2 separate regions of the Homo sapiens genome follow, and region 1 is linked to region 2. A link means that fine-mapping ties the variant in region 2 to the expression of a gene that starts in the linked region. Tissue or cell type: whole blood. Region 2 holds a variant in brackets; the other region holds the start of a gene. All regions are shown on one strand. Distances are from middle to middle.

Evidence for each region. PIP is the estimated chance that this variant, and not a neighbour inherited with it, causes the effect.
Region 1: ATP6V1C1 starts here. The variant in region 2 is fine-mapped to the expression of ATP6V1C1 in whole blood (TOPMed, PIP above 0.99).

Annotation. Positions count from the first base shown.
Region 1 is chr8:103,016,197-103,027,252 of GRCh38, forward strand. It overlaps ATP6V1C1 (ATPase H+ transporting V1 subunit C1), which reads left to right and starts at 4,887. Exons shown (of 13, transcript NM_001695.5): 1 at 4,887-5,029. It also overlaps the pseudogene NPM1P52. RefSeq lists an enhancer at 5,117-5,326.
Region 2 is chr8:103,068,882-103,079,025 of GRCh38, forward strand. It overlaps ATP6V1C1 (ATPase H+ transporting V1 subunit C1), which reads left to right. Exons shown (of 13, transcript NM_001695.5): 13 at 1-4,170. Among named protein-coding and RNA genes, the nearest start is that of LINC01181, 47 kb to the right of the region's middle. RefSeq lists an enhancer at 9,656-9,825. The variant G/T (reference allele first, on the strand shown) is at 2,677.

The DNA.
Region 1 (11,056 bases), 52 kb before region 2:
CATCTCTTCATTCTCCAATTTCTGTTGCTTTTCAGTGGAAACTAGCTCAAGTTATTTCTTTGGTCTTTGCCTCCATTTAACCATACTCTCAGTTTTTCTTCCACCCTAGTGGAAGATATTAGTTTATCAAGGTATTTTCTTAAACAAGGACACTTAGTTTCCTAAGGGAAATGCCAGTAACAACTTTCAAGATATCTTGACTATTATACCAGAGTGAAAAAGAGTTCTGAATCCTGTTGCCCTATTTGCTTCAAATACTTTCTCCACTTTGTTTAACTAATGGATACTAGGCTTAATACCTGGGTGATGAAATAATCTGTACAACAAACCTCCTTGACACAAGTTTACCTATGTAACAAACCTGCGCACGTACCCCTGAACTTAAAATAAAAGTTAAAAAATATTTAAAAAATTAAAAAAAGAAAACAGTAATCAAAAAACAAAATAATTGGTTGCTGGTATGATTCCATCCTGCACAGCTGTTCTCTGGAGCGTGGTTGTTTACCTCTGCCTGGCTTCTCTCCTACCTAAGTGCTTGCCGCCACCCATGGAAGATTTGACGGACATGGACATCAGCCTCCTGAGGCCCCAGAACTATCTTTTTGGTTGTGACTAGAGGCCAACAAAGATTATCACTTTAAGGTGGATAATGATGAAAATGAGCACAAGTTATCTTTAAGAATGGTCAGTTTAGGGGCTGGTAGAAAGGATGGATTTTATATTGTTGAAGCAGAAGTAATGAACTATGAAGGCAGTCCAATTAAAGTAATACTAGCAACTTTAAAAAGGTATGTACAGTCAATGGTTTATCTTGGGGGCTTTGAAATAACATTGCCTGTGGCCTTACACTCAGTGTGTTTCAGGGCCTGGGCATATGAGTACACAGCACTTAACAGGTATGAAGGAAGATACAAAGCAGGACATGAAGAGGAGGGAGATGTGAGACTTTTCAGTATATCTGGAAAGTGATCTGCCCCTGGAAGTGGGTACATTTCTACAAGAAAAAAATAAAACTTCTTGCTGATGAAAATCATGATGATGATGAAGAGGAAGAACATTTTGATGAAGGGAAAACTGAAGAAAAAGCTCTAGTGATGAAATTTATACAGGATACTCCATCCAAAAAATGCACAAAGATCAAACCAAAATAAAAAAGACTCAGAACTATCAAGATTAAGACCAAAAGGTCAAGAATCCTTCAAAAACAGGGGGAAAAAACCTCTTAAAACACCAAAAGGACCTAGTTTTGTAGAATATATTAAAAGCAAAAATGCAAGCAAGTATAGAAAAAGTTGGTTCTCTTCCCAAAGCTAAGTGCATCAATTATGTGAAGAATTACTTCTGGATGACCAACTAGGAGGCTATTCACCATCTCTGGCAGTGGAAGAAGTCTCTTTAAGAACACAGTTTAGGCCAAGCGTGGTGGCTCATGCCTGTAACCCTAGCACTTTGGGAGGCCAAGGTGGGCAGATCACTTGAGGTCAGGAGTTCAAAACCAGCCTGGCCAACATGGTGAAACCTTGTCTCTCCAAAAATAAATAAATAAATAAATAAAAATACAAAAAATTTGCCAGGCGTGGTGGTGGATGCCTGTATTCCCAGCTACTTGGGAGGCTGAGACAGGAGAATCGCTTGAACCTGGGAGGCAGAGGTTGCAGTGAGCAGAGATCACGCCATTGCATTCCAGCATGGGCAACAGAGTGAGACTCTGTCTCAAAAAAAAAAAAAAATAGTTTAAACAGCTTGTTAAAATTTTCTTTCTTCTTTTTTTTTTTAAATCTTTTAACCCAATAGTTCTTTTAGAGAAAAAAATTACCTGTCATTTCGTTAATAGTTCTTTTAGAGAAAAAAATTATCTGTCATTTCATTTCTGTAACAGTTGATATCTAACTGTCCTTTTTACAATTCAGAGTGAGAAGTTCCCTAGCACGTTGGATAAATATTGTCCAGGTTCCATTGCCAAAAATGTGTTGTCCAAAATGCCCCTGTAGTTTTTAAAGATGAAACTCCATCGTTTGCTTGTTTTTTTTTTTGAGACAGAGTCTTGCTCTGTCACTCAGGCTGGAGGGCAGTGGCACTATCTTGGCTCACTGCAGCCTCTGGCTCCCAGGCTCAAGCAATTCTCCTGCCTCAGCCTCCCAAGCAGCTGGGATTACAGGCATGCACCACCACACCCAGCTAATTTTTGTATTTTTAGTAGAGATGGCATTTTGCCATGTTGGTCAGGAAGGTGTCAAACTCCTGGCCTCAAGTGATCTGCCCACCTCAGCCTCCCAAAGTGCTGGGATTACAGGTGTGAGCCACCACGCCTGGCTCTTTGCTTGGTTTTCAGTATATATGTATGTATGGAATATTATGATAGGACATAGTAGTAGCTGTGGTCAGACAAATGGAAATGGTGGGAAGACAAAAATATGTAACTGAAATAAGCTCAATATTTTAATAAAGGAAAAAATAAATTTTTTCCCCGGAAAAAGTTGTAAGAAAAAAATAAATCTTCTCCCATGCATCTTAGGAGTGCTTTAAACTTAGATGTTTGGAGATGAGTAGTCTTTAGATAGGTGGAAATGGAGGAAAAGGTGTGACATGCCCATGGCTACCTAGTATGCTTCTATGCATAGTACAGTTTTTAAAAAGTGAGTTGCTTCTCTGTAAAAACATATTACTTTACTATTAGAAACCACTGGAGAGCAATCATGCCCTGCTTATATTAAACATCTTTGCTAGATTTTTATTTGATTTTTTGAGATGGGGTCTTGCTCTGTTGCCCAGGCTGGAGTGTATGGTGCAATTTTAGCTCACTGCAGCCTCGAACTCCTGGGCTCAAGGGGTCCTCCCACCTCAGCCTCCCGAGTAGCTGGGACTATAGGCATGCACCACCATGCCCAGCTATGTTTCCTAAATTTTTAAGTGAGATACATTAAACCTCATAAAAATTAGAGCTAACATTTATTGAACACTCTGTTGTACTGCCTCCCAAGTATAACATGGTAATTAAAACACTGGAGGCCAGGCACGATGGCTCACCCCTGTAATCCCAGCACTTTGGGAGGGCCAAGTGGGCAGATCACTTGACCTCAGGACTTGGAGACCAGCTTGGCCAACATGAGGAAAACCCGTCTCTACTAAAAATACAAAAATTAGTTGGGTGTGATGGTGCACGCCTGTAGTCCCAGCTACTTAGGAGGGCAAGGCACAAGAATCGCTTGAACCCGGGAGGTGGAGTTTGCAGTGAGCTGAGATCGCACCACTGCTCTCCAACCTGGGCGACAGGGCGAGACTCCATCTCAAAAAAAACCCCAAAACTAAAAAAAAAACCCCAAATGTTGGAAAGTTGCGCGAGGTATAATTCAGTTTAGAAATTAAGAATCCAAGACAAAAAGTCTGCCTCAGGACCACACACAAGCACGAAGAAACCAAGATAGTTCAAGCATGGACCTTAAAACTGCACTGTCTAAGGCTGTTGTCACTGGTCTCATGTGGCTATTTAAATTTTAATTAAAGTGAAATAAATTTTAAAATTCAGTTACTAAGTCACACTAACCATATTTCAAGTGCTCAATGGCTCCATGTAGCTAGTGGGTACTGTACAGACAGCACAGGATAACATTTGCATCATGGCAGAAAGTTTTAGTGGACCTAACCAAAAAAAAAATGCCTTTAGGCTCATTTCGTGATGGCAGATAAAAGCCTCTGGAATTCTGATAAGTTTCTGAAGCCATGTTATAGAACTGGTTATTGTAATTGCATGAACTTCATCCAAAACTGGTGAAAGCGTCAGGTTGGGGATAGTCTGGTGGTTGTTACTTTCTGTCCAACCTAATACTGAGGCTCTGAGAAATTCTGTGGTGAATTTCTGTAGGGGGACACAGCAGAAAAGGCATAGTATAGGTCAGAAAACCTGGGTCCTATAATACATAGTAATAATGACGACCATTTACTGGTTGTTTCCTATGTACCAGGCACTGTGCTAACCACAGGCTTCATTTAATCCTCACAATACCTGTGTAAGGTATTATTACCACCACTTTGCATGTGAACAGGCTGAAATTCAGAGGAGTAAGGTCACACAACTAGTAAGTAGGAGAGCCTGGATTCAACACCTGGTATCTATTCCCTTGCGCTGAACAACTCCGTGCCCTCACTTTCTTCATCTGTAGATCTAAAAGGATTAAATTAGAACATCTCAAAATTTCTACTACTTCTAAAACTCTGTGTTCTAAATTAGGACATTACTATCTATCTCCCCAAGCTAATGAAATAAGCAGGGTTCCTGGGAGGAGCTTGTTACCTATTTTTCTCCAAAGGAGATGCTTTCCCCTGTCTATGCCTCTGTCCTAAAACCTTTGGTTTCCCACTATCTAATGTGGTTTCAACTATCTATGAGGCGCTTTCGTGGCAAGGAGTGATTCTCTCCAGTAGGCAATCCTAAGAACGAGCGCAGTGCTTGGCGCACAGTAAATGCTCCATGGACCATTTATGAAATTAAGTCTAAGTGGACTTCAGGAAAATGTGAATCTGCTAAAATGAACTACTAGCCAGTATACTAGGTAGAAAACCCAGCTGACGAAGAAAACCCCAAGTGGAGAAGCCCTTGTAGGGGGTTGGAGACAATTTCTGACCCGCAGAAACCTGCAGTGGCGCTGACGTTTACAAGTGGTGGACAAAACGCCACTTGCAACACTGGAAGAAGCGGAAAACCCCACCCACTCTGGAACAACAGCGATCAGCCCCGAATATAGGGTCCCCTTGCCGCCCCGTAGCCTCCTAGTCCCGCCCCTCTCCCAAGGCCCGGCAGTGGCAGCGGCTGCGGCTGCGCAGTGGCGCGGGCGTAGGCGGAGCAGCGCGCGCCGCGGTCAGCTGACTGCTGGGCTGGCACGTGACTTGTTCTGTGTTCGCTTGGGTAGAGGAAGCCGTGAGGCCGGAGCTTAGGTCGGGAAGGGATGGATCGCTGAGCCGATAGCGTCCGCTAGGCTGTCTGCCTCGGTACCTGTTACTGCTGCTACTTCCTCGTTTGACACCTTCCTGGGTCAGTGAGCGATGGCTCTCCCCGGATGGGGAGTCCTGGTCAGGCCGAAGCATGAGCTCCGGTCGCTGCCTGGGAGGGACGCGGGTGGGTGCGGGGGCAGAGACCGTGGCGTTGGAGCTGGAGCTGGCTGGGTGGCTGTGTCTGGTTTCTCGGCGCCAATTCACCGTCTTGGGCCTAGGTTCCGTCTCTAAGGAAGAGAAGGAGGGAAAAAGAGAAAGAGCTCTCGTGGGTAGTTAATGACAGGCAGAAAGGAGAGATACAGCGGTCTGGGATCTTTCTTCTTGGGTAGGAATGCACGCCGCCTGATTGATTGAGGGGAATGAAGTGATAGGTCCAGGTGAGGCTATGGAGTGGTGTGTGTGAGGTCACAGCTAGCGCAAGTGCCTTCACTGGGTGTGTGTTGGGGGGGGCGCGGGTGTCGGGGGTCGGGGGTGGTGGGATGACAGTTTAAAGGCCTAGGAGCCCCTAACTGCAGGCAAGGAACCCTCACAGAGTACACAAGGTCCCTCTAGGAATGAGAAAGAACAGGAATCCAGAGAACTCAACTATTTTTTAGTAGAATGGGGGAGGGTAGGCAAACAAAACAGAACAAAACAAAACAAACCCCTAGAAAAGAACTTGGTGAGAGTCACATAAGGCATATTGAATCACTTGAGAAACAGGAGTAAGGGGGAAGCTAGTATTCTTTTCAGAGGAAAATTCTGGTATGTTAGGGAAAAATCACATGCTTCAGTGCGAGCCCAGTACTTAGCGCCGCTCTGGGAATGGAACGGGTGGGATGTGAACAGTCTATCCTTAGGAGTTAGCACTAACGTTGGAGAGAAAAGTCTACACACAGGACACGTTAAAATACGATGCAGTTTATGTATACTTACCAAAAAGAGAATGCGAAGTGCTTTGAAAGTGTGGAGCAACGACACATGTGTAAACTGGCACTATGGGAAGATATTCTGGAGGAAAGAAAACTTGAGTCTTGGCAAGCCCTCAGGATTTGAACAGGTTGAGAGAAATGGGGATAATTTTACAGGCAGGGAAAGCCACAGGATTTGAAAGCCTGAAGATGGGGGTAGGGAATGCTTCTGGTGGAGTCAGAAGTAGCTTTTACAGTGGATTGCACTGCGGAGAAGTGGGAAAGAAAGTTGGGAGTCAGGTAACGAGGACTTTTGAATGGTAGTCGTTTACTTATTCATGCAAATAATGTGTACTGAATACATGCTGTATGCAGGTACAGTGCTGATGGTAGGGTTTAGAAAATTGTCTTTATAGAGCTTACAGGCAAGCAGAGGGGATGGATTTTAAAAATCAAGCAAGCGTGAAATGTGCTTTGAAGGAATAACAGTGGTATGAAAGAGTGTAGTAGGGGCATGTGTATTATGGAAGATTTTAAAAAGGCATTGCTAAGAATATGACTTTTTAAAGATTAAAACAATTTTATTTATATTCTTCATACCCTCTCGCTCTGAGAGGGTATGACTTTTGACCTGAGATCTGAAAAGAGACTGAAAAGGGAATGTGAAGGTGTGAGTGAAAAGAACATTCCAGGCCTGGCAGGGTGGCTCGTGACTATAATCCCAACATTTTGGGAGGCTGAGGTGGGAGGATTGCCTGAGGCCAGGAGTTCAGGACCAGCCTGGGCAACATAGTGAGACCACCGTCTCTACCAAAAATAAAAAAATAACTAGCTGGGAGTGGTGGTGTGTGCTTGTAGTCCTAGCTGCTCGGGAGGCTGAGGCGAGAGGATCATTTGAGCCCAGTAGTTCGAGGCTGCAGTGAGCTGTGATCATGCCACTGCACTCCCTCCTGGGAAACAGAGCTAGACCCTGTCTCTGAAAAACGAAAAAGGAACATTTCAGGCTGAAGCAACAGCGTATGTCAAGGCCCTGAAATGTGAAGAGGAAGAAAGCTTTTCAGCCTTTTTGAAAGGCTAGCATGGCTGAAACGGGGAGGGAGAGAGGCAGGTGGAGAAAGCTGGGGTCACGCCAAGCAGAGCTTTTATTCTAAAAACAGAGGGAAGCCAGTGAAGATTACAGGCAGTGGATTGAGACAGGTTGTGGCTTTTTTTTTTTTTTTTTGGTGGGGGGGAGATAATGTGGAGGGTGGCAAAAGTGAATGAGGGGAGACCCGCTCAGGGGAACATTGTTGTAATCCACTGAAGGATTTGAAGACAAGATACCTTCTCTCTCCACTGAGGACTTCAGAATGTTTAACTGTATTCACTTTTAGAGGGTTCAGGACTTGGGGAAGGGAAAGAATGATTCGATTCTATTTGTACCCTTCACAGGGTAGTCGTAACTACCCTCGAGGCAGTCCTGAAGTACATAGCAGAGGCTCTTTTGCAAAAATTTGTTTTGGCTTTTCAAATTTATCCTTTTGTAAGGTCATCTATTTCAGAATATCTTTTATTGAAATATAGTTACAGGGAGGGATCACTTTCATATTTATTTTGTTCTCACAGTTCTTTGAAAGACAGTGGATGAAAATGCTATTCATTGTATAGATGGGAACCTGGAGCTAGAGAAACACGTAAAGTGATTTGGCTGAGTCCGGAGTAACTGCCACAGTTTTCTGACTGCTGATGTATTCCTGCTGATTACCTACACAGTACTAACCACAGTCACATCTAGAGAAAAGGGCGAGTTTTTTGAAGTGCACAGTAGTCTTTGATTCAGCATTTTTTTTTGGGGGGGGGGAACTTCTCCCTGAAGAGTCAGCACTTTTGATGAACTTTTTCTAGTAGAACAGCTTCAAAGGAATTGGCAGTGGTGGGCTATGTCTTATCTATAATCTTGGATAGAGCTGTTCAATTTACAGTTCATCTGGAGGAAATAATGAACAATAAGGTGAACTGAAAGTGCTCAGGTTGTCAATCACAGTTCTTTGGCAAAAAGTGAGTCTCAAATTATGCTGAAGACTGAGCCTCAGGGTTCTGTCTCAGAAGTCCTGGATCTTTTTCTCTTTTGGTATACCTTGTAGGGACTAGATAAAATCTAAAGAAACAGTACTCAGGATCTAACTAAATGCTGAGAGCTAGATAGTGTAATTCAGCTTTTAAAACTTGGCACAAAATACTCATTTTTATTTTTTTGGTATATTAGTCTTAGGAGCCTCATGTACATTAGTTTTTTCAACCTAAAAAGAAACTTCAGGGCTTCAAAAATCTGATTTTGTGATTATTTCCACAACTCACGAGATAATACCATTGGCCAACTGGAATGCCAAAGTAAACCTTTGCCAAAGGTCTCCATGTAGTTTACCCGTCCCTAAGCAGCAAGTCTTCTTTTGAACTTGGTTCTGCTTAGGAGTACTACAGTTTTGACTGAGTACCTCCTACTTAAAATTTTGCTCTTGTACATATTTAAATCTGTCTACAGGTTACATCTTTTTCACTCTTTGGGTGTGGAATTATATATCATTTATAAATTAATTCATGTTAGATTTCCATTTTTCATCAATTTTTAAAGACAGACATAGTATAAACATTAGCATAGTGCCCTTGGGACGCTTAGGCAGTGAACCAAGGCAGTCTAAAATTTCCTATTGACATGAGTGATTCTTGGAACTAGAAATTTCAAACTATATTCTTGATGCTGAAACAAAATTTTTTATCCAGCAGGACATCTACTTCTAAGATTATACCATGTGCAAATGTACTATGCGTTTATTGAGTTAAAAAAATGAGCCAGGTAGGCAGTGGAGGAGAGGTGCTTTGGTTACTATGCATTTATTGAGTTAAAAAATGAGCCAGGTAGGCAGTGGAGGAGAAGTGCTTTGGTTACATCGGGGATAAAAGAGTATTAACTGTATATCTAAAATGTGGGGTGTGTGTGTGTGTGTCTGTGTGAGTATGTGTGTGTATTTGAAAATAAAATGCTAGGTAAGTGATGTTTTATAGAAAGGGATCGATGGATCTTCTAAGATATTTTAAACAGACTATCAATGAATAGGAAGTTGTAAATTAAGGCGTGTTAACAGGTGGTTTAACTTTACCATGAAAGGTTTTCCTTTTGAATCAGCCCATAGTTTAGTGTTTCTATGTGGGTGCTATTGGCAGTTTGGAGGTCTGTTTCGCCCCTACCCACTAAATGCTGATTAGCGATCTCCACATTGGGACAACCCAAAATGCTCCCATACATTTCCAGACTCCTCCTGGAGGAGAGAGGCACCATTTGGTGCAAAACATGCATGTGGTGTCAGTTTATTTGTTGGACAAATATTAAGATGTTGAGGTTACAGAGGTTAAAAGTAATATTTTAATAAACTGCATATAATGGAATTCAAGTAATTTAAAATCTAGTGTTTGATGTTTTAATGTAACTCCTTTAGTGTAAAATTACTGAAACTATATCCTAATATTTCTTTGAGGCACTTGTCTTTTGTAAAACTGCATGAATAACTCAAATAGAGTCCCCTTAATCCCAATAAAATGTAGTCACTAAATGTCTTTGGGCAACTAATTTCACCAGCTGTTCCCTCATTTGCAAGTGGGGGTGGTGATAACACATCTTGTGAGGGAATTAAATACAAAATTGCTTTAGTAGATGCAAGTGCTTATCACTGGGCACAACATGTGGTACATATTCAGTGATAGTTGTTACCAGTAAACAGAATCTCAAGCTTACTTAGGGTCATGAGTTGGAGAAAACTAATCTTAAAGTCTTTAAGTTGGTGAATTTCAGGCCAAAATACATTGTATTGGAGATATCAGCACCTTCTAGCAGAATGTGGTACCGTGGTCCAGTCACTATTATAAATTGCCAGCCATGAAGAAAAGGGAAGTCATGTTTTGGGAGCCATGAGTGTAGATTCAGGGAATCCCCTGGCATGGAAGGAATTATTTGCCCACTGGGTCACCGCTGAGTTGCCTGTGCAGAGGAGGAGTCTCTAGAAGCTGAGAAGGTTTTGGTGATTACTTGCAGTAATGGGTGTACGACAGGGCCCTCCTGGCCATGTCTGCCAATTCAGTAGCTTTACCAGAAGTTACTAGAAATTTTCCAACATTGTATTATGTATTACATCCCCAGCCCCCACTCCACAATGTCACAGTGTGTTTCCAGTTTTTGTGATAGGTATCTGTGTGAAAGTAAGGCTTTGCTTTTACAGATTGCTTTCTAGGCAAATGTGGAATAAAAAAATTGTAGTTGATAAAATGAGTCTAATAAAGATTAAATTGCCTTTCATATTTAAGTATATTTATGGCAAGAAATTATGGTAGTTTTAATAGGATTATAGAGCATTTATGGGTATTGTTTCCATTGAAAACAAAACACGGAATATTTAAGATTTATTTAAGAAAGGCGGGGCTGGGTGTGGTGGCTCACGCCTGTAATCCCAGCACTTTGGGAAGCGGAGGCAAAGGGCGGGCGGATCACTTGATGTCAGGAGTTCAAGACCAGCCTGGCCAACATGGTGAAACCCTGTCTCTACTGAAAATACAAAAAATAGCTGGGCATGGTGGCTCGTGCCTATAATCCCGGCTACTCAGGAGGCTGAGGCAGAAGAATCGCTTAAACCCAGGAGGCAGAAGTTACAGTGAGCCGAGATCGCGCCAGTGCACTCCAGCCTGGGCAACAGAGTGAGACTCCGTCTCCAAAAAAAATAAAAAGGCATATTTTCTGACAGTTTTAAAATCTCATTTCGTATGAATCATGGACGTATTCCTTGAAAGGTAAAATCCCCCTTCTAGTTACTGAAAATGTTTAAACAAGTTGTATTATGAGCAAGCCCCTCCCACAATCCCAATTAAGATGCTTCTGTTTCGAAGGATAGAATTTTTACATTCAAAGAGGAAGCAGTTATTTTTACTTTTTATATGTATGGTGTTAGTGATTTCTAGGGTAGGATGTGGCAACTTTTTAACTGAGTGGATTGTGGTAAATGTTTCGCACAGATCAATTCTGTTAAAAGTTGATGTGCACATTTGGAAGGCTATGTGATATTTCACTGATAGCTGAGGTATGCCTTCTTGTGCTTCTTAAAATAAGCTGCTTTAGTAAACTTGGTATTTTCAAGTACTGAAAAGGAAGTTGT
Region 2 (10,144 bases):
CAGTGGTCTGTATCTCAACATTTTCTTTTTAAAGGAAAAAATATATATATATAGTTTCTTTTTATTGATCAGGTCTGTAAATGTGTACTAAAAAAATCAGAGTTTATTTATAAACAAAATAGTTTATTTAAAGAGAAGGTCTCTTCCTTATTGATATCATGGTATGCATTAATTCCATTTGTTACTATTGTGCACAAAAGCCCTGTTCACAGGGGAATGGTGTAAACATTTATACTGTTTTGTTCACTGTATTTAGTAGACATAACTGTTGAATAGTTACTGAATCATGATGTAAAGAATATGTGACCATCTTCAGGTATGGGATTTCTGAACGTTTCAAATTTCAATCAATGAGCACTGTCAACACCCACAGGAGAGAATAAAATTACCTGTGCAAAGGTGTATTGTGGTGTGTGTAACTTAAGATTACAGTTCTGTTTGAGAGTTAAATGATGTCATAGCTCACTTGCTATGCTGCTTCCAGGATTTTGTTATATGCTGAGGTGTAACCATTTGTGTTGTCTGACTTTCGTATGATTTAATTGAGCCAAATTTGGGTCAGAACACAAATTTGAAGATGACTTTTCAGTATATGATGGGTATTTACATTTGAACACTAGAATTTTAGGTCTCTCAAATAATTAAGAATAGAGCCAGTTTTGAATAAAGTCTAGCAGAACTATGCAGCTTTAGTCATTTGTTTTGTCTAAGTCTGTATTTTATGTGTTGTCTTCTTAAGATCTATAATTTTGGCATTTATGTCATTTGTGACATAGTCTGAAAATAGAGACATTGTTGGCCTTTAAAATCTCAGAAATGAATGACTTAATTTAGTGTCCTGAAAGAGCTTTTAAAAGAGGATTTTGTGGCAATGTTTCTCTTACTACGTACTCACAGGTTTGCAAATGGGAAAAAAGTTTACATTTCAGTTTAGGGGCATATCTAAGCTATGCTATTCCCTTTAGAAAATTAGCCTCCAAAATCTTTTGTTTCAAAATATTATATTATTTCATAAATAATTTCAAGCAAATACAGACATCCACAATGTAGAACATGAGAGACCCCCTCCCTCAATTTCCACCTCCCAAGGGAAGTTTATGTATTTTTCTAGGCCCTTTTCTATGTCTTTACATCTCTGTCTCACACACACACACGTATACACACACACAGTTTATTTTTAATAAAATAGGATTATACCACACACATCCTGTCACTTGCTTTTTTGCTTAAGAGTATATCTAAGAGAATCCTTTGTGTCAGTGAAGCTGGAGCTACCTCATTCTTTTAACTGGCTGCGTGGCGTTCCATTGAGTGTCTGTCATCATGTGTTTAGCCGAGTGGATGGATAGTCTGCTTGTTTTTAGTTTTTGCTCTTAACAAACACTGCTGCAGTCAGCATCCTTGCACAGATTTCTTTGTATACTTGTATTAGTATTTCTGTAAGATCTGAGAAGTGGAATTTGTAGGGTCATAGGTTATGTACACTTAAGTTTTTGACACTCACTGCCAAGTCATCTGTCAGAATTCTAAACTAAAGACATGTTTGGAGTGTGGATTTATCTTCAGTTTTTCTTTGGACAAGAGGAAGCTGTGAAAGATTTTGCTATCAGAAAATTTTGGTTCTTTGTCTTTTGCACATGTTCTTTGAGTCTTAGTATCTGTAACGTGGCGCTACTCTCTCTATCATGGGGGGGCATGTTTTGACATTAAATTGACTTTTAAGAAAAACATGTCACTAACCTGAAGCTCAGCCACACAGTGACTTTTAAGGTTTTATTTAGACTTTACTGTTGTTCTCATGAGAGTAGGTACAGACTGCATAAGGTTTAGAATCCCAGCATATGTCTGAAACGACGGGACTTTCACTGTGATTTCCACCAGAGAAATTATAGCAGAGTGGCTGAGCATGTGCTCTGAGGCCAGGCCCCAGCTCTGCTGCTGACGAGCTGTGTGGTCCTGGGCAGAGTGGTCTCCGAGTTCCAGTCCCTCCTCTGTAAAATGGGCATGATTAGAGTGCCCACCGCATTAGGGATGTTGGGGTGAGTCAGTGTGACCCCACGTGCACAGAAAGTGCTGCGAGTGGTGCATGGTGAGAGGTTGATGCAGGTACTTAGCCCTTGGGGAACACAGGTAGTTCCTTTTCACTGTGTTTAATTTGGGAAAATCCAGATCCACATCATTGTAGAGTCTGAGGGTTAGAAGGAAGTCATTGTGTCTAACATAACAACAGAGCAGTTTGTGTCACTGAGCTCCAGTCTGTGCTGGATTATTGATATTGTTGGTGGCGGTCACCATTCCTGGAAAGGGACTGTCCCAAGCCACTTACCTTCCCGAGGAGTCTGCTGGTTCTCCTTGAGGATAGTGCTTAGATAACAGACTCATTAAACATTTACTGAGTGTCTGTCAGGGATCATTCACATCCACATCATCCTCCCGGCCCCTCCCCGTGTTGTTCATGGAGGGAGTACTGGCGGTCCCCATTTTCATGTATGGAGACTTCAGGTGAAAGAAGTTAAGTGAATTCTTTGTTGAGTCACAAATCTTGAGCCAGTCAGAATTTGAACCTAAGATTTTTGACTGCTGGTTGTCACACTTCCCGCCCCACACTCAACTGTTGTGTGAATGAGCCAGACACATTGCTTAACCTGAGTCCGAGATGGACAATGGTATAGGAAA[G/T]ATATTCGGTATGGAGAATCAGATGTTAACTTGTGTTGCTATTTTTGTTTTGTTTTGTTTTGTTTTGTTTTTGAGACAAGGTCTTGCTCTGTCACCCAGGCTAGAGTGCAGTGGCATGATCAGGGCTTACTGCAGCCTCACCCTCGATTTCCTGGGCTCAAGCAATCCTCCCACCTCAGCCCCCAAGTAGCTGGGCCTACAGGTGCGTGCTACCACGCCTGGCCAATTTTTTAAATTTTAGCACAGATGAGGTCTCACTATGTTGCCCGGGCTGGTCTCGAACTCCTGAGCTCAAGGGATCCTCCCGCCTCAGCCTCCCAAAGTGCTGGTGTTACAGGCATAAGCCACCACGCCTGGCCTGTGTTGCTATTATATTTGGCAGGAACCCAGAGTCCAGAACATTTCATCTATGATGGGTTAGATAATGTGTCTAGTTGTTTGCATGCCAATTTCAGTAGCCTCAGTTATTCAACCTAGGAGATTTTTCTACCTCTTTACTACCCTGCTGAAGTTGCTCTTCAGCAGAAAATCTTTGTGGAACACATTCCACACTTTGAAATCTTCGTGGAACAAAAGATATTTGTGGAACCAATCTTTGTGGAACATATTCCAGCTTTTTGAATGAGTGCATATCCAGTAGTACCTTTAAAGTAACACTTTGTACATAACAAATACTCAGCAAATGTGAAACTTTATTTGCTCTTACTTCAAAATTAGTCCAAAATGTTGGAAATAAAATATAAGACATTGATCTAGATATGAGGTTTTTCTCCTTCATTCTCAGCTGTCGAAGAAATCAAAGTAGCATATGCACAAGGTTAAAAACCACATATACAAATACTATAGAACAGCTTATAATGAAAACCTTGCCTGCCTTTATAAAAAATGTGATTATCTTCTTCTGTTAATGTCAATAAAAGATGGTTTGTCCTAGAAGGTCTATAAATGGTATTATGTTCTGGAGGAAACCTAGCAAAAACTTTGCTAGTTTAGTACTTGTCTCTAAATTGATGTTCACCCATTTCAATATTGCACTTATTAATGGTCTTTATTTTTCTAGCATAGATAACAATTGATTCTTTAGATTCATATATGGAGGTAATTCTTGCTTTCTAAAGAAAGGAATATGGCACATTGGAACCATTTTATTCACCAGTGGATTTACCCTTAGAGTATTTTTAGATCTGAGCTGATGACTTGTGAGAGAAAAAGGGAACAGAGTAAAGCCATGGAAGCCATGAACAGTAAGAGACTGCCGCCTGGCATGGTTTCTTCTTCTGCAGAAGATGAAACTGAGGAGAAACAAGACAACATCCTTCATACCAGGAATGGTCAAGATAATGCAAGAAGAAAAAAGCTTTCAAACAAATCAGAAGGCAGTCAACAAACAGAAAGGGGGACATTCCTTCCCTGGCAGTTACTCAAAACTGAAATTGCTTATTGTGTACACCGGGGCTTGTACTTGGGGAATTTAATAAAAATGCTCATTACCAAGCTCCAGAGAGATGTGGTTTAAAGTCTTAAGTAGATCCAAGGAATAACCTACATTTTAAACAAATACCCAGGAGAATCAGAGGCTAGGGGTTAGTTGTAATCGGATACTACCTTTTAATGATTCTTCCTCTGAACCCTCAGATTGGGGTGTTGATTTAGAATTTGTAAGCATCTTGAGGTCTCATTCAAATAGTGATTCTTCTCTATTGACAGAGACCACACTTAATAGAATCATCATGGGTAAATCAGCTTTTTCTACTGTCACTTGAAGAAATATTCCACGTCGTTAAATCAGTAGAACTGGAGAGTTCTGTCTCAGCAGAAATTGATCAATAAAGATGTCTTTTGCCCTTGGAAGGCCATAGAATATCAAGTTGAAATTTGCAAAAACTCTAAAATGATCAAGGTCACATTTTCATCTTTTAATTGAGAACTCATTGTGGACATAATTTGTCACTGCTTGTAAAGTGTAAAAAGAAACAACCAAAACAGACTTTGAAAGAATGGTTTATATGAGGAAGCCCTCCTCCCCCCCAGAAAAGGGCTATTAAGATGAAAGTGAAAGAAGGAGTTGGAGGCAGCAAAGGTTATTGTTGATGTTGGACAAAGGAAGGAATAAACTGTATGACACCACCTTGAACTTGAAAGTCATTTGTTTTTTAACCAGAAGATGAACAGGAACTATTTAGAATATCAAATCCCAAGAGCAGCTTTCATGTATTTTGCTGTTTCCTAGGTATGTGGGTGGCCTCACCGCATAGTCCTGTGACAAATCTTAATTATTTTTTTCACCAACACAACTTGCCATATTTTATATAAACTACTTAGATACATATTTAGACTGTTTCTCAAGAGTGCTTTATAGTTGAGTACAGGTTTTATGCATTGTTAGAAGCATAAAGACGCTTGTTTTTTAAATAGAAATTGTGATTATGCAGATACCATGTTTTACCACAAGAGGGCACTCTGGTGCCATTGAAAAGCAAACAGGTAGTTTCTCCTCCCTGCATTTTTGGTTCTGACTTGTACAGTCAGTTTAGAGAAACCTACACTCTGCATTCTGGTTTGGTATATTTTGTTACAAGCGTTTATTAATATAAAGTTCTCAAAAAATGTTAGATGACTTATTTTGTGACACTCTAGCCTCTGTGTGTGTGTGTGCATAAAACCCACACATCTTTGAGCAGACCAGTGCCAGCCAGTGACAGTTTTCACTGAAGATCAAATTAAAAAGGTAAGGATATATGTATGTGTGTGCATGTGCGTGTGCATATATAATCACTGACTCAGTTGCTGAGCATGCGCTATGAACCAGGCGTGTTAGGCGCTGGGGATTTAATGCAAGCAGTCAGATGGGCACAGTGCCTACCTACCTTGATGGGGCGTGCAGCCTGGTGATCTGGTGGCAATCTTACTGGACAAAACACAAACCCGGCAGCCCTAAGTTAGGAAAAGGATTTTACTGATCTGTGAAACCCACAGTCTGAAAACAAACTGATTTAAGGGTATCTGTCCAGAAAAGTCAACCTATGTTATCAGTCAGTGGGTAAAGAATAGACACATCATTTTATCACGTTTGACCACCTAGTCGGCCTGGCTTAGCAGTGTCCAAAAGAATTTCTTATGATGATGGACATTCTATACCTGTGCTACCCAATGTGGTGCCCCTAGTCACATGTGACTGAAGATCACTTGAAATGTGGCTAGTGTGACTGAGGAACTGAATTTTTTTATCTAATTTTTTTTTGAGACAAGGTCTGGCATTGTCGCCCAGGCTGCCTTCTGGGCTCAAGCCATCCTCCCTTCTCAGCCTCCCAAGTAACTGGGACCACAGGCACATGCCACCACATCCGGCTATTTTTTTTTCCCGGTAGAGACTGCTCACCATGTTGTTTAGGCTGATCTCAAGTTCCTGAGCTCAAGCAATTGGCCTGACTTGGCCTCCCAAAGTGCTGGGATTACAGGTGAAAGCCACTGCACCTGACCAATCTTATTTAACTAATTAAATAGCTACATGTGGCTGGTGGCTACTGCGCTGGACATAGAGGTCTAGTTGGTCACACCTGGCTAATGAGCCTTTTTGACCTTGAGTTTCCAATATATCCCATATCCTTTGGCTTTTTTTGTTTGTTTTTTTATGACTGGAAGAGCCAGCCTTGCTTCTGTTTACTTTGATTGCTAGATTTAACATCCCCACAAGCCTGAGAAAAAGAGAGGAAAGGATTGCTCTTGGAATCATTGTTGGTGTGCCTCAGATTGCTACGCAGGACAGCATTCTCTTTGATCACAAAAGACAACTACATATACTTTGTGCATTGATGTGCACGAGAGTAAACTGGTTGTCATACTGAAAGACCAGAAGCTGTTTCTGATGGGAAATATTGAATCAGCAGAATTGAAAACACAGCTGTGTGGTTCTAATGGGAATATAATTTCTTCTGTCAATCAGTGCTCACTTAGTATCCATTGTGTGCAGAGCATTCACTATTCCAGCCTCTGCAGGGAGACATCAGGGAGATGCTCACCACGTGCTTTTGAATGATATTATTTGTCTTTATTGACTCTAAGAAATGTAAGAGGTTCATAAAACATTGAAGCCATTAAGGCCTTATTTGAGAAGTCTAGCAACTCACAGTTGCCCTTGGAAAGAGGCAAATAGGAAGGGGAGAGCCCTCTGTCAGACTTGTTTTCCATCGGTGACATGTGGCATGGATTTTACCTCCTACCGTTAGCTGGCCACCCTCTGCATTCAGGCTTGTGAAGCATTCTGGAGGCCCCCCCGCCCCATCCTCCACTCCCGGCTCTTCCTTTGGCATCCCCACTGGCCATATTTCTTTCCTAGTCTGTTCTGACAGCCTCCTAACTGGCCACTTGTCCCCAGTCTCTGGTCACCTTCAGCTCACCCCAGTTCTGGGACCAGAGGACTGGCAAGTCACTTCTCACAAATTCCGAATTGCTGCTCACTTGCCCTCGGGATAGAGGCTCTATTCAAACTGGACTTTCTTCCCTTTTAGAATTGGCTTCTCTATGTGTTCTCTGAAAGAAGAATATCGTTTACTGTTGTTGATTTGATGGGGGCCGCTTTGGAGGAGGAATTTAGACCATAGATGGTTCCTAGGGATGCTCCAGCAGTCTCCTCTCCTTTCCTACCTCCTCCAAGCAGGCCACATGAGCCAACTTCACATCTGTGCTCTCTCAGGATGTAAAATCGTGGGCAGACTAGCATCCCAGGGTCTGAATCATTCCTTCCTCTGTAGAAGAAGGATAATGAGGATAACACTACAGGACTATTGTGAGAATGAGGATTAAACCGCAGGTCCAAATTTTCTAGCATGGTACATGGTGCAGAGGAGGGGCTCAACATATTAACTGCTGTTGTTATTGTGTACTACCCTTTTCCATGCTGCATGATTTGTGTTTCTTTTTTGCCTACTGCCTCATATCTTATGTGAGATGAAATTAGTTCCTCTTTAACTGCATCTGTTTAGAAGGCAGATTTCCCATTAAAAACCTGCTGGCATCACATGACCAGCAAGTTCACACCAACGTGTAAACCCAAGAAAACTGAAACCATATATTCACACAAAAACCTGTACATGAAAGTTGATAACTGCATTATTCATAATAGCTAAAATTGGAAACAACCCAAGTGTGCATCAACTGATGAATGAATGGATGAACAAAATCCGGTTTATCCACACAGTGGAATATTAGCCATAAAAAGAAATGGAAGTACTGACCCACGCCACAACATGGATGAACCTAGAAGACATCGTGCCAAGTGCAAGAAGCCAGACACAAAAGGTCACAGATGACTTCATTTATGGGAAATGTCATGCATAGTCAAATAAATCGGTATAGAAAGAAGATTCGTGGTTGCCAGGAACCAGGATGGGAAGGGATTTAGTAGTGGCTGCTAATGGGTACAGGGTTTCTTTAGGGGCAATCACGTTCTGGAGTTAAGATAGTGCTGATGATCACGCAACTTTATGAATATATTAAAAATCACCGAATTGTATACTTTAGAAGGTGAATTTTGTGGTATATGAATTGTTTCTCAATTTAAAAAACCTACCGGGAATTAGCTCAGATTTTCTACAAATTCTCTTAATTCTTTGCTTATCTGTTTATATCGATAGAATTTTTAAAAATTAATTTGAATTTCCTTTTACGAATGGTAAGGAGATTTGCCCTTTGGGGTTTCACTCCGTCCAGTGCTCTTGCTGTCGATTCTGTCTGTTTGCCTTTTTTGTTGTTTTCGTTTGTCCACTCAGCATCTCAGTTGGCCTTAGCTGCAGCCGTCTGCAGCCGCCTCCTCCACTTGGGGGTTAGGTTGCACATCTGTCCCAGAGTAGCTCATCTCACTGGTTATCACATTAGCAGTCACTCATGTCAGCAGTCCCCGAAGAAAAGATAGCTGGTTGGCTGGGGATAAAGCATCTGAAACTTTGCTGGTCTGATGATATCTTTCTGTTGTTTCAGTACATGTGTCACTGACAACTTGCTTAGGTAAAAGTGCCCATAGTTCCTTCATTTGTTCAACAACCATTTACTGAGGGCAGAATCCTCATTCACTTAGTGAATACTTAGTAATTGTTGAATACCTGGGTACTAGGGCAGGAGCAGCCAAATGAGAAAAAGGACTCTGTCCACATGGAGCCTACCTGCTGGTGGACGATACACAATAAACATAGCGAACAAGGTAAGACTTTTCGCCCTCTGCACCTGTAAGGCCATTGAGGACTAACCTGGCTGGGAATGGGTAGGAAGAGCTGCTTCAGAGGGGTGTCTAGATATACCCCAGAGGATGCCAGCCATGTGAAGACCTAGGGGAAGGAAGTGTCTCATAGAGGTTGGGTAATAGAGGATCAGCGTGGCAATAGCTGAGTGAGTGAGTGAAGGGTGTGGTATGTGCAGCAGATGCACCTAGGTGGGGTCTTCAGAACATGGTGAAGAACTCAGACTTTTTTCTTCTAGCAAAGGGAACCCATTTTAGGGACTCATGTGCATGTTTCAAGGATCACTGCAGCAGTGGTCATACTTGTGTGTTTGTAGCCCCTATTTCTTACGTCGTGCTTGGCGCATTCATAGCAGGCACTGGGTTCTGGTTCAGAACTGAAGTGGATGAATGCATGGAGAATGTACTAAACCCGGAAGTGTGCCAGACTCTGCACCCGAAAGTTCTCTGCAGCTTCTCCAACTTTAAGAGTGTTCTGCAAACACACTGAATGCTTTGCCTGGATCTTCCTGTGAAGATCCAGGCAGAATTTAGTAATAGAAATTTGTAAAATTTATTCTTAAATTCTTTTGCAACTGTCTTGATTTCTTCACAAACATAGTCATCATCTGTTTATCAAATGGGCATTTTAAATAATATTTGACACATAACTGGCTGACTCCACAGCTCCAAATTAGTCACACGGTAGTCTTTTGATAATAGCCAACATGTGACAACAGGGATTTTTTGCACGAGGTGGGGAGCATTCTGGTTTCCTTTTCATTTTTCCAATATGTCATATTTCTCACTTCCACTTTTCTTAGAGGGGAGGGTTGTCTTTTTGCTTCAAACTATTATAGGCTTTTACTGAGAGACAAGAGGCTATGAGCCCCACTCAGTAGAAGAAGGGTTTAAGTCTATCATATAAATTATTGCCGCTCTAACTTCTCTCTGTCCCTGCCTCTTAAGTCATTTACGGTATTTGTTTGGGTAGCTATATTGGATTTCTTCCGTTTTTCCAGGGGAAATACAGCAACTTTGGAGAGACGTGAACATGGGAATATATGAATTGATTGCTTGAGAAGTGTTAGTGTTAGTTCTGGAATGAAGTCCTGTGTCATTAGGTGCTTACGTTGAAAGGAAATGTAGAATTTTCCATAGTCGCAGCTTTCCAGATTTTAATTGGCTGCTTGCCCTCGTGTCACTTTCTTTTCTAAAATAAATGTTTTGGATGGCTCTTATCTTTACAACCAGGCA